Linked DNA regions of Homo sapiens. The gene in region 1 interacts genetically with each later gene. Each region holds a gene or a part of one and is shown in the gene's direction. Other genes may lie near its edges.

What was found. A genetic interaction does not mean that the proteins touch.
Region 2: changes in PTAR1 (region 1) and RABL3 are lethal when combined (synthetic lethality), as found in Homo sapiens cells (one study listed by BioGRID).
Region 3: changes in PTAR1 (region 1) and VPS54 are lethal when combined (synthetic lethality), as found in Homo sapiens cells (one study listed by BioGRID).
Region 4: changes in PTAR1 (region 1) and COG5 are lethal when combined (synthetic lethality), as found in Homo sapiens cells (one study listed by BioGRID).

The regions. Positions count from the first base shown.
Region 1 is NC_000009.12:69,732,512-69,736,011, reverse strand, and holds part of PTAR1 (protein prenyltransferase alpha subunit repeat-containing protein 1), read left to right. Parts: intron 1-1,757; coding exon 1,758-1,862; intron 1,863-3,500.
Region 2 is NC_000003.12:120,736,017-120,739,516, reverse strand, and holds part of RABL3 (rab-like protein 3), read left to right. Parts: intron 1-849; exon of another isoform or gene 850-990; intron 991-3,500. UniProt on the Homo sapiens protein: Required for KRAS signaling regulation and modulation of cell proliferation. Regulator of KRAS prenylation, and probably prenylation of other small GTPases. Required for lymphocyte development and function. Not required for myeloid cell development.
Region 3 is NC_000002.12:63,894,540-63,897,428, reverse strand, and holds part of VPS54 (vacuolar protein sorting-associated protein 54), read left to right. Parts: intron 1-2,889. UniProt on the Homo sapiens protein: Acts as a component of the GARP complex that is involved in retrograde transport from early and late endosomes to the trans-Golgi network (TGN).
Region 4 is NC_000007.14:107,231,921-107,235,420, reverse strand, and holds part of COG5 (conserved oligomeric Golgi complex subunit 5), read left to right. Parts: intron 1-1,208; exon of another isoform or gene 1,209-1,339; intron 1,340-3,500.

The DNA.
Region 1 (3,500 bases):
TAATCCAAGACTGCAAAAGCAATTGGCTGTTGCAAGAAAAAAATATATATTTTATATATATATTATATATATATAATGACAAATTGGTTTCCTGAACATTGAAAGGAAAATAGTTGTTTTCTTTATCAAATAAAACTTTATAAATAGTATGTCACTGTTGGAAAGAAAATGTATTGTGGTATTTAGGAATTAAGTCCGTCTAAGTAGATATGGTATAAGAGCTGGATTCTGGTTTTCTCTGGCTTAAACTTCTCTAAAATAAATGAATAATCAGCCCTACACAGGAAGGACATTTTAAGATAAATAATAACAAATGATCTGATTTTATTATAAAATTATAGATACATTGAGAATTCAGTGAGAGTGTAATATCAGCACTTATCAAAAACTTACCTGAGAAATTAAATGTAAATTGTATTTACCTGAGAAACAGGTATAGAAAGCTCTTGCATGACATTCTTTATATAGTTGGCCCTCTGTATCTGTAGGTTCTGCATCCATGGATTCAACCAACCGCAGATAGAAAATATTTGGGGAAAAAATTGCTTTCTGTAGCGAACATGTTCAGACTTTGTTTTCCTATCATTAGTCCCTGAATAATGTAACAACTATTTATATAGCATTTACATTGTATTAGGTATTATAAGTAATCTAGAGATGATATGAAGTATATGGGAGGATGTGTGTAGGTTATATGGCAACACATTTTATATCAAGGACTTGAGCATTCGCAGATTTTGGTATCCTTGGGAGGTCCTGAACCAAGCCCCCACAAGATACCAAGGGACAACTGATTGCATTGAAGCTTTGGTTGGGCTTGAACAGTTTTAAAAACAACCAAAACATTACATTGCTATTACTTCTGCTGCTTATATTAATATTTTAAAAAGGAATGGCCTCGTATATCAAGGGTCATGTAAGTATTTTACCTTGTTAATAGCTCTTTTGGAAACTTATCCAAAGTAAGAATACAAAAGAAAGAAGTTATAAGCACAAAGCTTCCCCTGCCCAGATTTGTTTTAAAATAACAAAAAGTTTGACGCAACCTAAATGTCTAACAAGAAGGGAAAAGCATAGCTTCTAAATGAAAACTAATTTGATCATTTAAAATGTTCATTACAAAGATTATATAGAATCATGGGGAAATTCTTAAGATATAATGAGAGCAGGATGTAAAATTATATGTTAAAATGTATGTGTGATAGGGAAAAGTAGAAGGGAAAATTCAAAAATAAAAAATAGTAATTTGGTTAGAATAGTGATTCCATGAATGATTTTTTTTTCCCTTACATCTCAACCATATTGTGTTTGTTGTATGTGTGGTTTTGTAATGAAATAGACCATGTCAAGTCCTATTTAGGAAACTAGACCAATTTTGGCTGGTATTGGATTGGCCCTATAGGTACGATATCAGGTCTCACAACTTTTGGAAATGAGATAGGCCAGAAAACCCCATTTACCCTCACGCAAATAGTTAAGATTTAAAAATCGTTAAAATCTGTTGATTTAAGAGCTTCTCTTTCTGCTTATTAGTTTGTTATATTGGGATTATGAGAATACATTCTTGATTACTGCATGTCACATTTATGAGTGTTTTATATCCCAGAGTGGCTTGGGCTTTTTTTCTTTCTTTTTTTGTTTTAAAATTCTTAGACATTCGCTTCACAATGAGATTATATTAAAAGCCATGTAGAACCTTTGGATATAAGGATAAAGTAATGTTTAATTTTTTTTTTTTTTTTTTTTTTTTTTTACAGGAAAGAGCTGATCCTCTCTGGCACTTTAAATCCAATTAAGGATTTACATCTGGGAAAACTCGCCTTAACCAAGTTTCCAAAGAGTCCAGAAACATGGATTCACAGGTGTGGTTAATTTACAACATAGTACTCTTACTTAGGATTCAGACTGGCTGGAGAAAGAAACATGACATGTGAGAGGCAAGGTTACTTATTGGTTCCAGAGCATGAATTCTGAAGTCAGGTTACCTACATTTAAATCTAGGAGCTATATAACTTGCTACCTAAGTGTTCATGGGAAATTACTTAACTCACCAAGCCTCAGTTTTCTCATTTGTAAAATGAGAATAATAATTACACCTGTCTCATATAGTTAACAGTCAAGTTTACGTGAGTTAATGCATGTAACACTCCCACAGTGCCTGGCACATATTAAATACTCAATAAATGTTAGCTATTATTAACTCTTTGAAGCAGTTGTGGGCATTGCATTTATAGATACTCAACTGTAATGAGCAATATGGATTTTAAAAGCATTTGGTTGTTTTCCTGGTAAAGATGTTGGTGGTGATGGTTGTGGTTATTAAAATTAACTTACAGAGAAAGCTGAGGGCAGCTGAAGCGAATGCTGTGTAGGCTGAGCTAAAGTTGCTAAAATCCATACATACAAAGAACATTTTTAGGTTAAAAGCATGGGACAGATAGCCAGAATGCACTTTAGGACTCTCAAAATCCTGGCCACCTGGAACCATCTTCCTCTTGGACCCTGTGTAACTACTCTTATTTGACCAAAATGGGATGGTGTGGGCTTGCTAGTCAGGACCAATGAAGAAGTCACTCTGAAATTCTCAGTTTATTAAGCCACTCTAATTTTTCTTAAATCGTGGGCATTTTTAGGATCTTATGTCCGTTCCAGGTGTCTTAGTGGTAATCGTGCCTTTAGTTAACATTGCAGGTCAGCTTCTTCCAAACCACATAGTCAGTTATATTTTCTTCATCACCAGAAATTGAGATAGTATACCACAGAAGGGTATATGACTGTGTGTATGGGGGTTTGGAAAGGGATGGTGGCAGGGGAAAGGAACTGTTAAATATGCATCCATCAGTTTGGCTTGTCTAATTTTTTTTATCAAGCAATATTTTGTTGTTAAATAAGAAATTCCATTATTTTAAAATGACAAAGTGAGTTTTCTTACTTAATTTCCTGTACCTTTGGGTTTGAAATCTTTAGTCTAAAAAATGCTTTTATATAAGTAAATTACTGGTACAAAGTAAACACATTAAGTAGCTCGAAACACTATTTAGTGTTTTTTATGTAAATACATGTTAATGCAAATCTTAAACAGACAAAGGGAGAATTTGTGGATAAGGATATTTTGACACCTTCTTAATGGTTTAATGAATTATATTTGTTACCTTCCAGATTTTATGCTATAATACAGAATTTTGCTGAATGAAAGCTATCAGAATGCAGCTTCTTGTTTGCAAACAAATGCACATAGGGTGAGGCATGCATATATACTTAAAGATGTGAATCATGACTCCTTATAATATTTATCAGCCATTAATTTATGACCTCTCACCACGACCACACACACACACACCAATTGCCTTTACATTTCCTGGCCAAGTGGAGTTTTGGGATTGTCATTTTAGAAGTAATGACATTCTCTGTATTACAGATTTTAAAGTTTTTTTTTTTTCCTGTTTATCCATTTTCCACCCTTCATCCATACTGCTAAATTAGTATCATCATAAACAACA
Region 2 (3,500 bases), on another chromosome or scaffold:
GAGTAGATCAACAGAGAATTTATGAGAGGAAAAACAACTGATTTGCCAGAATAATCATAATGATAATCTTTGATCTTTATCAGAAAGTAAAGAAATGCAGACTAAAGCAAGCTGTCACTCCCCCACTGCCCGCCACCACCGAGACGGATTGTTGCTCTGTCACCCAGGCTGGAGTGCAGTGGCGCAATCTCGGCTCACTGCAGCCTCTGCCTCCTGGGTTCAAGTGATTCTCTTGCCTCAGCCTCCCAAGTAGCTGGGATTACAGGCACCCACCACCACGCCCAGCTAATTTTTGTATTTTTAGTAGAGACAGGGTTTCACCATTTTGGCCAGGCTGGTCTCGAACTCCTGACCTCGTGATCTGCCTGCCTCAGCCTCCCAAAGTGCTGGGATTACAGGTGTGAGCCAACGCACCTGGCCAAGATGTCACTTTTATTCCTTTATCAGGTTAACAAGGATGAAAAGCCAACTACATGATACTGTTGAGGTGCAACAAGACCTGCAGGCTCAAGTGTATGGCTGGTGGCAGTATAACCCCATGAAAGTTATTTCTCAATGCATATCAAGAACTTTAAATGTTTCCTTTTAAGTACTGAGTTTACTCCTGGGAAGGTATACTAAGGACATAATTTTAATTTTAAACAAAGGTTTAAACAGAAATAACCTTTCACTAGCATATCAAAAATTTCAAAACACCCTAAATATCTAATAATAATGGAAGAATGATTAAGTAAATTTTTATGCCTACTTTCTGAAGTACTATGGAGATACTTTAAATGTTTATGAAGATTTTGGAATAATATGGAAACTTTTAATAAATACTAATTAAGGTTCTGATCTAAATACTAGAGATAAAAAAGCTGCGTAAGAACCCTCAAGGAACTTAAAATTAAGGGAGTGGTTCCAAGATGACCAATTAGGAACAGCTCCAGTCTACAGCTCCCAGCGTGAGCGACGCAGAAGACAGGTGATTTCTGCATTTCCAACGAGGTACCAAGTTCATTTCACTGGGGCTTGTCAGACCGTGGGGGCAGGACAGTGGGTGCAGCCCACTGTGTGTGAGCCAAAGAAGCGCAAGGAGTCAGGGAATTCCCTTTCCTAGCCAAGGGAAGCGGTGACAGACAGCACCTGGAAAATTGGGTCCCTCCCACCCTAATACTGTGCTTTTCCAATGGTCTTAGCAAACAGCACACCAGGAGATTATATCTCTGACCTGGCTCAGAGGGTGCCACACCCACGGAGCCTTGCTCATTGCTAGCACAGCAGTCTGAGATCTGCAAGGTGGCAGTGAGGCTGGGGGAGGGGCGCCCGCCATTGATGAAGCTTGAGTAAGTAAACAAAGAGGCCAGGAAGCTCGAACTGGGTGGAGCCCACCGCAGCTCAAGGAGGCCTGTGTGCCTCTGTAGACTCCACCTCGGAGGGCAGGGCATAGCCTGAAACCTCTGCAGACTTAAATGTCCCTGTCGGACAGCTTTGAAGTGAGTAGTGGTTCTCCCAGCACAGAGTTTGAGAACAGACAGATTGCCCCCTCAAGTGGGTCCCTGACCCCCGAGTAGCCTAACTGGGAGGCACCCTCCAGTAGGGGCAGACTGACACCTCACATGGCCCAGTACCCCGCTGAGAAAAAGCTTCCAGAGGAATGAATGATCAGGCAGCAACATTTGCTGTTCAGCAATATTCGCTGTTCTGCCACCTCTGCTGCTGATGCCCAGGCAAACAGGGTCTGGAGCGGACCTCCATCAAAATCCAACAGACCTGCAGCTGAGGGTCCTGACTGTTAGAAGGAAAACTGACAAACAGAAAGGACATCCACAACAAAACCCCATCTGTCCGACTCCATCATCAAAGACCAAAGGTAGATAAAACCACAAAGATGGGGAAAAAACAGAGCAGAAAAGCTGAAAAGTCTAAAAATCAGAGCACCTCTCCCCCTGCAAAGAAACGCAGCTCCTCGCCAGCAAAGGAACAAAGCTGGATGGAGAATGACTTTCACAAGTTGAGAGAAGAAGTCTTCAGATGATCAAACTTCTCCGAGCTAAAGGACGAAGTTCAAACCCATTGCAAAGAAGCTAAAAACCTTGAAAAAAGATTAGCTGAATGGCTAACTAGAATAACCAATGTAGAGAAGTCCTTAAATGACCTGTTGGAGCTGAAAACCATGGCACAAGAACTACGTGATGATGCACAAGCTTCAGTAGCCGATTTGATCAACTGGAAGAAAGGGTATCAGTGATGGAAGATCAAATGTATGAAATTAAGTGAGAAGAGAAGTTTAGAGAAAAAAGAGTAAAAAGAACGAACAAAGGCTCCAAGAAATATGGGACTATGTGCAAATACCAAATCTATGTCTGATTGGTGTACCTGAAAGTGACAGGGAGAATGGAACCAAGTTGGAAAACACTCTGCAGGATATTATCCAGGAGAAGTTCCCCAACGTAGCAAGGCAGGCCAACATTCAAATTCAGGAAATACAGAGAACGCCACAAAGATACTCCTCAAGAGGAGCAACTCCAAGACATGTAATTGTCAGATTCACCAAAGTTGAAATGAAGGAAAAAATGTTAAGGGCAGCCAGAGAGAAAAGTCAGGTTACCCACAAAGGGAAGCCCATCAGCGTATCTCTCAGCAGAAACTCTACAAACCAGAAGAGAGTGAGGACCAATATTCAACATTCTTAAAGAAAAGAATTTTCAACCCAGAATTTCATATCCAGCCAAACTAAGCTTCATAAATGAAGGAGAAATAAAATACTTGACAGACAAGCAAATGCTGAGAGATTTTGTCACCACCAGGCCTGCCCTAAAAGAGCTCCTGAAGGAAGCACTAAACATGGAAAGGAACAACTGGTACCAGCCACTGCAAAAACATGCCAAATTGTAAAGACCATTGAGGCTAGGAAGAAACTGCATCAACTAATGAGCAAAATAACCAGCTAACATCATGATGACAGGATCAAATTCACACATAACAATATTAACCTTAAATGTAAGTGGGCTAAATGCTCCAATTAAAAGACAGACTGGCAAATTGTCAAGACCCATCAGTGTGCTGTATTCAGGAGACCCAGCTCATGTACAGAGACACACATAGGCTCAAAATAAAGGGATGGAGGAAGATCTACCAAGCAAATGGAAAACAAAAAAAGGCAGGGTTTGCAATCCTAGTTTCTGATAAAACAGACTTTAAACAACAAAGATCAAAAGAGACAAAGAAGGCCATTACATAATGGTAAAGGGATCAATTCAACAAGAACAGCTAACTATCCTAAACATATATGCACCCAATACAGGAGCACCCAGATTCATAAAGCAAGTCCTTGGAGACCTACAAAGACACTTAGACTCCCACGCAATAAAAATGGGAGACTTTAACACCCCACTGTCAACATTAGACAGATCAACAAGACAGAAAGTTAACAAGCATATCCAGGAATTGAACTCACCTCTGCACCAAGCGGACCTAATAGACCTCTACAGAACTCTCCATCCCAAATCAACAGA
Region 3 (2,889 bases), on another chromosome or scaffold:
TTGTGCCATCCTTTTCTGCTGTAATCACACTGAAGACCAACGTTGTAAAATCAGCAAGCTTTTGTGTTTTTTTTTTCCCCTGTGGAAATATCTGTTTCTATCTAACTATCTAAAAGGGGTTTATACATGGACAATTGCTTACCTGACGTTATGTATCTGTTTTGAGGCAGTGTGAATTAGTAGCACTTCCTTAGTTACCCAATAGCTTTCCCTATTCCAAACAGGATTCAGAAGTCCTACTGTGTGACCATGTGAATGTCACTTAACCTGTGTGCCACATTTATAAAATAACAAGGATGAAATCTGTCTTAATTCTTTCACAGGGTTATGAAAAATAATATATGTGTGTATATGTATATATTTTATTGTAAGCTATTGAAAGATTGTATATATTACTGTAAAATAGCATAGTACATAGAAAGCATAGGGTAGGACTTAGAATCTGAAAACTTGGGTTAAGTTCTAGTTCTGTCACTTACTAGCTGTTGTAACTTTGGGCAAATCACTTACTCCCCCTCAGCTTAGGTTTTTTAGATTTGAAAATAGGGATGATGATAAAAGTTTCCTTAATAGGATTTTTTGAAGAGTTATGTAGATAAAGATATGGGGAAGAGATTTTATAAAATTTAAAGCACTGATCATTTAGTTACGTATTAATATCAATTCTTTAGTGTTCTAGGGTTTTTAGGAATAAAATTTTATTTCCTGTTAAAGGAATTTCAGGCTCAAATTTCAAACTTATAAGAACAAATGGAAAATGAAAAAAATGTATGTTGGGGTCAGAAGTTGGCCCTGCCATTTAAGAAGAAGTACAGTGAATCAATTTTGCAAAGAGCTATGTGAAAGCTTCATTCTGTTGAATCTGTTAGGCTGAATTTAAGAGTTTTATGCAAGAATGATAGTCTTATTATCTGATTCTTCTTTTTCTTTTTAAAGAATTATTTGTTTTCAAAAATTTCAAAGCCATGGAACACTTAAAGGACAATAATGAACACTGAATAGCTTTTACCTAGATTTATCAACTGTTAAAATTTTGCCACATACTCTCTGCCACTTTTGCTCCTTCTCCCTCCCACCCCCATACCTCCCTTTTGACAAACAACCAAAAAAGTAGGCTGCAGTCATAAAATTTAACCCTTAAATACTTTGGCATGTGTCTCTAAAAACAAGGACATTTTTATACAACCGTAATACCTGAACCCCACCTAAGAAAATCAACATTAATAGCGTTATACCAACATAGAGTCAGATATTTTCAGCAAGAACATCACATGTGGTGACGCTGTGTATATCTCTCACTTGATGTCAGATGATACAAATGGTACATACATAAGAGACCTGCTCCTGAAAAGATAATAGCATATTAGAAACTTAGGAGACTCTTGGTAGAGATGTATACTGGGTACCTTAAAGAGGCTGTTCAAAAAAAGCTAATAATATTTTTAAGGCCTAACCCTGCTCATACCCTTTTACTTTTATTCCCATAACTAAATCTGGGTTGGTTAGTTGGGTTTTTGTAGACCAGTAGTTCTGAAGCACCCAAGCTAACTCGTTAGCTGTTACTTTTCTTTCTTAATATAGCTATTTGGAAGTCAGTCTGACCTTAGAGAATCCTCACTGTCACATGCTAACAGAAACTCATTCTTTATAAGTCAATTCATGTCTTTGAAATATCCCTGAAGATTAACCTCTACCCTGTAGCCAAGGACATAAACTACCTGCTTAAAAGTTTTTGTTTCTGAAATTGCTCTAAAAATGTAGCTTTTGACTTTTTTTGAGGTGAAATTCACATAACATAAAATTAACTATTTTAAAGTGAACAATTCAGTGGCACTTAGTGTCTTCACAGTGATGCGTAACCGCCACCTCTATCTAGTTCCAAACATTTTCACTACTCCAAAAGAAAATCCTGTACCCATTAGGCAGCTGCTTCCTATTTCTCCCTCTCCCCAGCCCTGTACTTTGATTTTATTTTGAGATGGAGTATCACTCTGTCACACAGGCTGGAGCGCAGTGGCGTGATCTCAGCTCACTGCAACCTCCACCTCCCAGGTTCAAGCAATTCTCCTGCCTCAGCCTCCCAAGTAGCTGGGATTACAGGCACGTGCCACCACGCCTGGCTACTTTTTGTATTTTTAGTAGAGACGGTTTTACCATGTTGGCCAGGCTGGTCTTAAACTCCTGACCTCAGGTGATCTGCCTGCCTCGGCCTCCCAAAGTGCTGGGATTATAGGTATGAGCCACTGCACCCGGCCCAGCTCTGTACTTTTTAATGTGATTTTTTTTCCTCTAAGATATTTTAAAAATAGACACATACAGAGAATAATAAATTATTTATATTTCTACTACCCAGAATTGATCAACATTTGTCATTTTCTCTTGAAAAAAATATTTATTGTATTTTTAAAATGGTATTCAAAAAATTGCATTCCAGATGAAGCTAAGTACACCTTTACACCCCATCTGCAGTCCGATTCCCTTTTTCTCCCAGCCTTTAGGTAACATTTCCAGTGAATTTAGTCTACATTCTTTTAGTCTTATTTATTGTACCTAGATTTATGAAAAATATGTAGTGCTGTTTTGTAAATTTACTTATATGGTATATTGCATATATGCAGCTTGCTTTCTACTAGGCATTTTTACTGATTTATCTATGTTGATATATGTTTAGTAGTCTGTTTTTGACTGCTGTACAGTATTCCATCAAACAACCTTTTTTTTTTTTTTGGAGACAGGGTCTCATGGTCACACAGGCTGGAGGGCAGTGGTGTGATCATGGCTCACTGCAGCCTCAACCTCCGTGGCTCAAGCAATCCTCCCACTGCAGACTCCCCAATAACTGCGACTACAGGTGTGTGGCACCACACCCAGCTAATTTTTTTAATTTTT
Region 4 (3,500 bases), on another chromosome or scaffold:
GTAAAATCATTTTTAAGCCTTTCAAAGCTGTTAGCTTTACTAGTCCAAATAGTTACTGAAATGAATTCTTCATAGCAATTTGCCAGATCCTCCCCACTTATAAAGATAAATGTTAATGTCAATATTTATTCTTGTGTGTATCCGGGAGTGTGTCTTGCTTCATTATTTCTACATGGAGGAAAGGACCTGGACAGACTGCTTGTATCAAGTCAGTGGTTGTCAGGTGCTCCCTCAGACTTGACACACTTTCAAAAAAGGAACAGGTAACACAAACCTAAACTTTCAAGAGCCTGTTTCATTGCAAATTGACTGATGCAGCAGTTAGTCATTTTCATCTCCAAATAATATTCCTGGGACCATTAGACCATAGAAATGAGCCTTCATTTGGAAAATATGCTTGTAGTAGCCACAGCATAAAAACAGAGATTAAACGTTACCATTAATATGGCTCTTTTTACCTTTTACATTTTATGAACTTCATTCTTAGGCACCTGTACATTTAACTTTGTTTTACAGGTACACTTGGCTTAAAGAAAGTTATTTGTAAATAGTGTCTTATTTGTCCCTTACTGGGGTTCCAGATTGCTTATTAAAAACCTGATGATGTACTAGAACCTCCTCTTATTTGTTTAAAAAAAAAAAGTGTGAACTATACTCAGATGGTCTCTGTTCTCCTCTTCCCCTTTCCTCCTTAATTTTGTTTTTCTTTTTGTTTCATCTTCTTTCCCTGGGCTCTCTCCCCTACCAGCTTATTTGCATTCTGCTCCAGCTGGTTCTTGAGTCACTTTCCTGGAGGCAGCACTTCAAGTCCAATTAGAGTGGCAGCCGAGCAGGAGATGGCCAAAACGAGAGTGCTGTAGGAGAGAGGCTTGTTTTTGTTTTTTATTTTAATATGTTCCCTTATGGGTCCTGAAAGATGGAAAGTATTGTCCTTTAACCCTTGCTACTGCCGCTAACACCTGCTCAAAATGCATAGCATCCAGAGGCAGGGGTGAGCTTCCACCTTTCAAAAAACTGCATTATTCAAAATGTTATTTGGCATCCTTTTTTCTTAAGACATGTTGTCTAATAAGCCAAACTTTTCTGGGTCCCTTCCCTTAAGGTAAATTAAACTCATCAGTCATTATTACTAACTTATGCTCAAAGGCCTCTTGTTTCCTGTTTTTTAAACATAGAAGAAGCATTTACACACACAGCATTTACTCACTGTTAAGCCCTGCAGTGACATTTGGTTGCAGCAGGCAGTGTGGTATTGAAAAGCAGATTCCTTTGTTCACCCCTGTACAGTGTGTCCCAGTTTCAAAACATCCTGACACTCACCTTGGGGATGGCTCCAGTCCTGTGGATCATGGGTACAGAAAAGACAGGCGGAGGCACTATCATAATTAATCATATCTGTGATCATTATCTTTGGCAAATATTGTTCTACTGTTATGTCATGGTCTCCCCCACCCACTTTTTAAATTAAAATTAAAATTTCAAGGTTTTATTTCGTTTGGTTTGGTTTCTTGCCACAATTGCAATTATTTGTTGTACCTCAGCTTTTAGCATCACATTTGGTTGAAAGTGTTTTTCGAGGGTCAGTCAAAACATTTAAATAGCATTACTCTAACATTTATATTCATGACAGGCATCAACTGGGGACTAGAGGGCTTTTCAACTGCCTTATTACTGAAAGTTCTATCAATTCATATTCAAAATTAAAGCCATTGAGGTCACTGAAATCAAAAATACACAAATACTCCATGGGTTTAAAAACTGTTCTTGTGATAAAAGTGCCTGCCATTCTAGCATAAATAACAAAAAGAGCTCAAGAAGGGACCTATAGACCAGGTTTGGGAATACTAGTTATTTGCCGTAAAGTCCAATTGCAAAGAGAGATAATGACGTATTTTCAGGATTTCTTTAAGAATCCTAACTTCTCCTCACTGGCACCAGTGCAGGAAAGAGAAAGTAGTTGCAGGGTGCCATCTGGAGGGATCATGGTGAGGGAAGTACCTGACATCCAGCCCCCTTAGGAATCCAGGTCATGGGCACGAGGTGGTTTCCTACAGGTAATTAATTCCCCACTGTGACCACATGGTCTCAGTGCCTACACTGATCACACAGCAGTTCTGAAATCACTAAGCCTGTCCACGACACTGGGGTTCTGCTGATTCTGAATCTCACTGGGATCTTGCCCACAGTGTCCTCTGAAGCACATACTCCCCCTCCACCCCTCAGTTTATTTTCTTAGCTGAAGGAAAGAGTGGCTATTGAAGTTGGTATTAAATTATTTAGTGGTACTTCTAGCAATTTCTATTTATAGGTCTTCTGGTGCCCTTTAAGCATACATTTATATCTATTTCACTTTGTGCCTAAAAATATTAATTTAGAAAAGAAAACAAGACAATCAAAATTCTAATTTTTGTTCTAATTCCTATTGCCTTTTCTTCTCCTGAACAATGTCAGGGCAGGAGTACCCTAGGAGTATCCAAAGAAGTCCTGTGGTTAACCAAATGTCTGTGGTAGGGAAGGAACAGCTATGTAATTAGTTCACCGTGCCTGCAGCTGACCGCTCATTCTCTCCAAACGGGGGCTGGAGAGAAGCAGTTGCACATGCCACTTTTGTATCCGCTGCTAATGGCAGAGTCACCTCCTCTTACCACAACACTCTTGCCCTTTAAAACATGGCCTTTATTGTTTAATGGAATTCTGGAAGAAGAAAATGATTTACAATATCCTAGAGGTCCTTTATGGATAAAAAAATTTTATTTTAAACATTAAACATTTTGAAATTGTCCTGCGGCATAGAAATCTTTTGCATAATCATACATTTTCCAGCCATTCGAGGTCATATTTTCTCATATCGTAACTTTTTCCTAGCCATTTATTTGTTTTAACATTTGGTCCTGCTCAAGTGCTAAGGCAAAGGTTGTCTTTGAAGACAGTGATTCCACTAGAGTAGTTGAGAAATTGACAAAAACACTTCGTGAAAAATATATAATTTCAGTATGTAAAAAACCATTATATAGAGAGAGGTATTTGAATGGAATTATATCAAAGATACAGTGATAATCACATTTTTCCTTTGTGCTCAGTGTAAAGTAAGTGACACATATGGAAAGAAAACAGAAATTCCTACCCAGTGAATAAATGAAACAGGTTCCAAAGAACAGCCTATCACCTACTGTCTTTTGAGTTGGGCACACTGGCTCACAGCTGTTCTGTTTTGCATTGTTGGCAAGAATCCTTTTTCTTCCTTACATTTTTATCTTTATATTTATTTATGATTCTTCATTTTATAGTTTCCCAGCCATATAAGGTTTCCTTCTAGGACATGCAGTATGCAATCCATGTCTTTAATATGTTATGAGAGAAATTAACCTGGTTACTGTTCATCCTCAAGACCATCCCAAGGAAGCTTCTCCAACTCTCTCGACACTGAGGTCATAAGTTTGACATAGCACTTATCATTTTGCTTAATAAGAATCATTATGTGTGTATGTATGTGTGTTTAT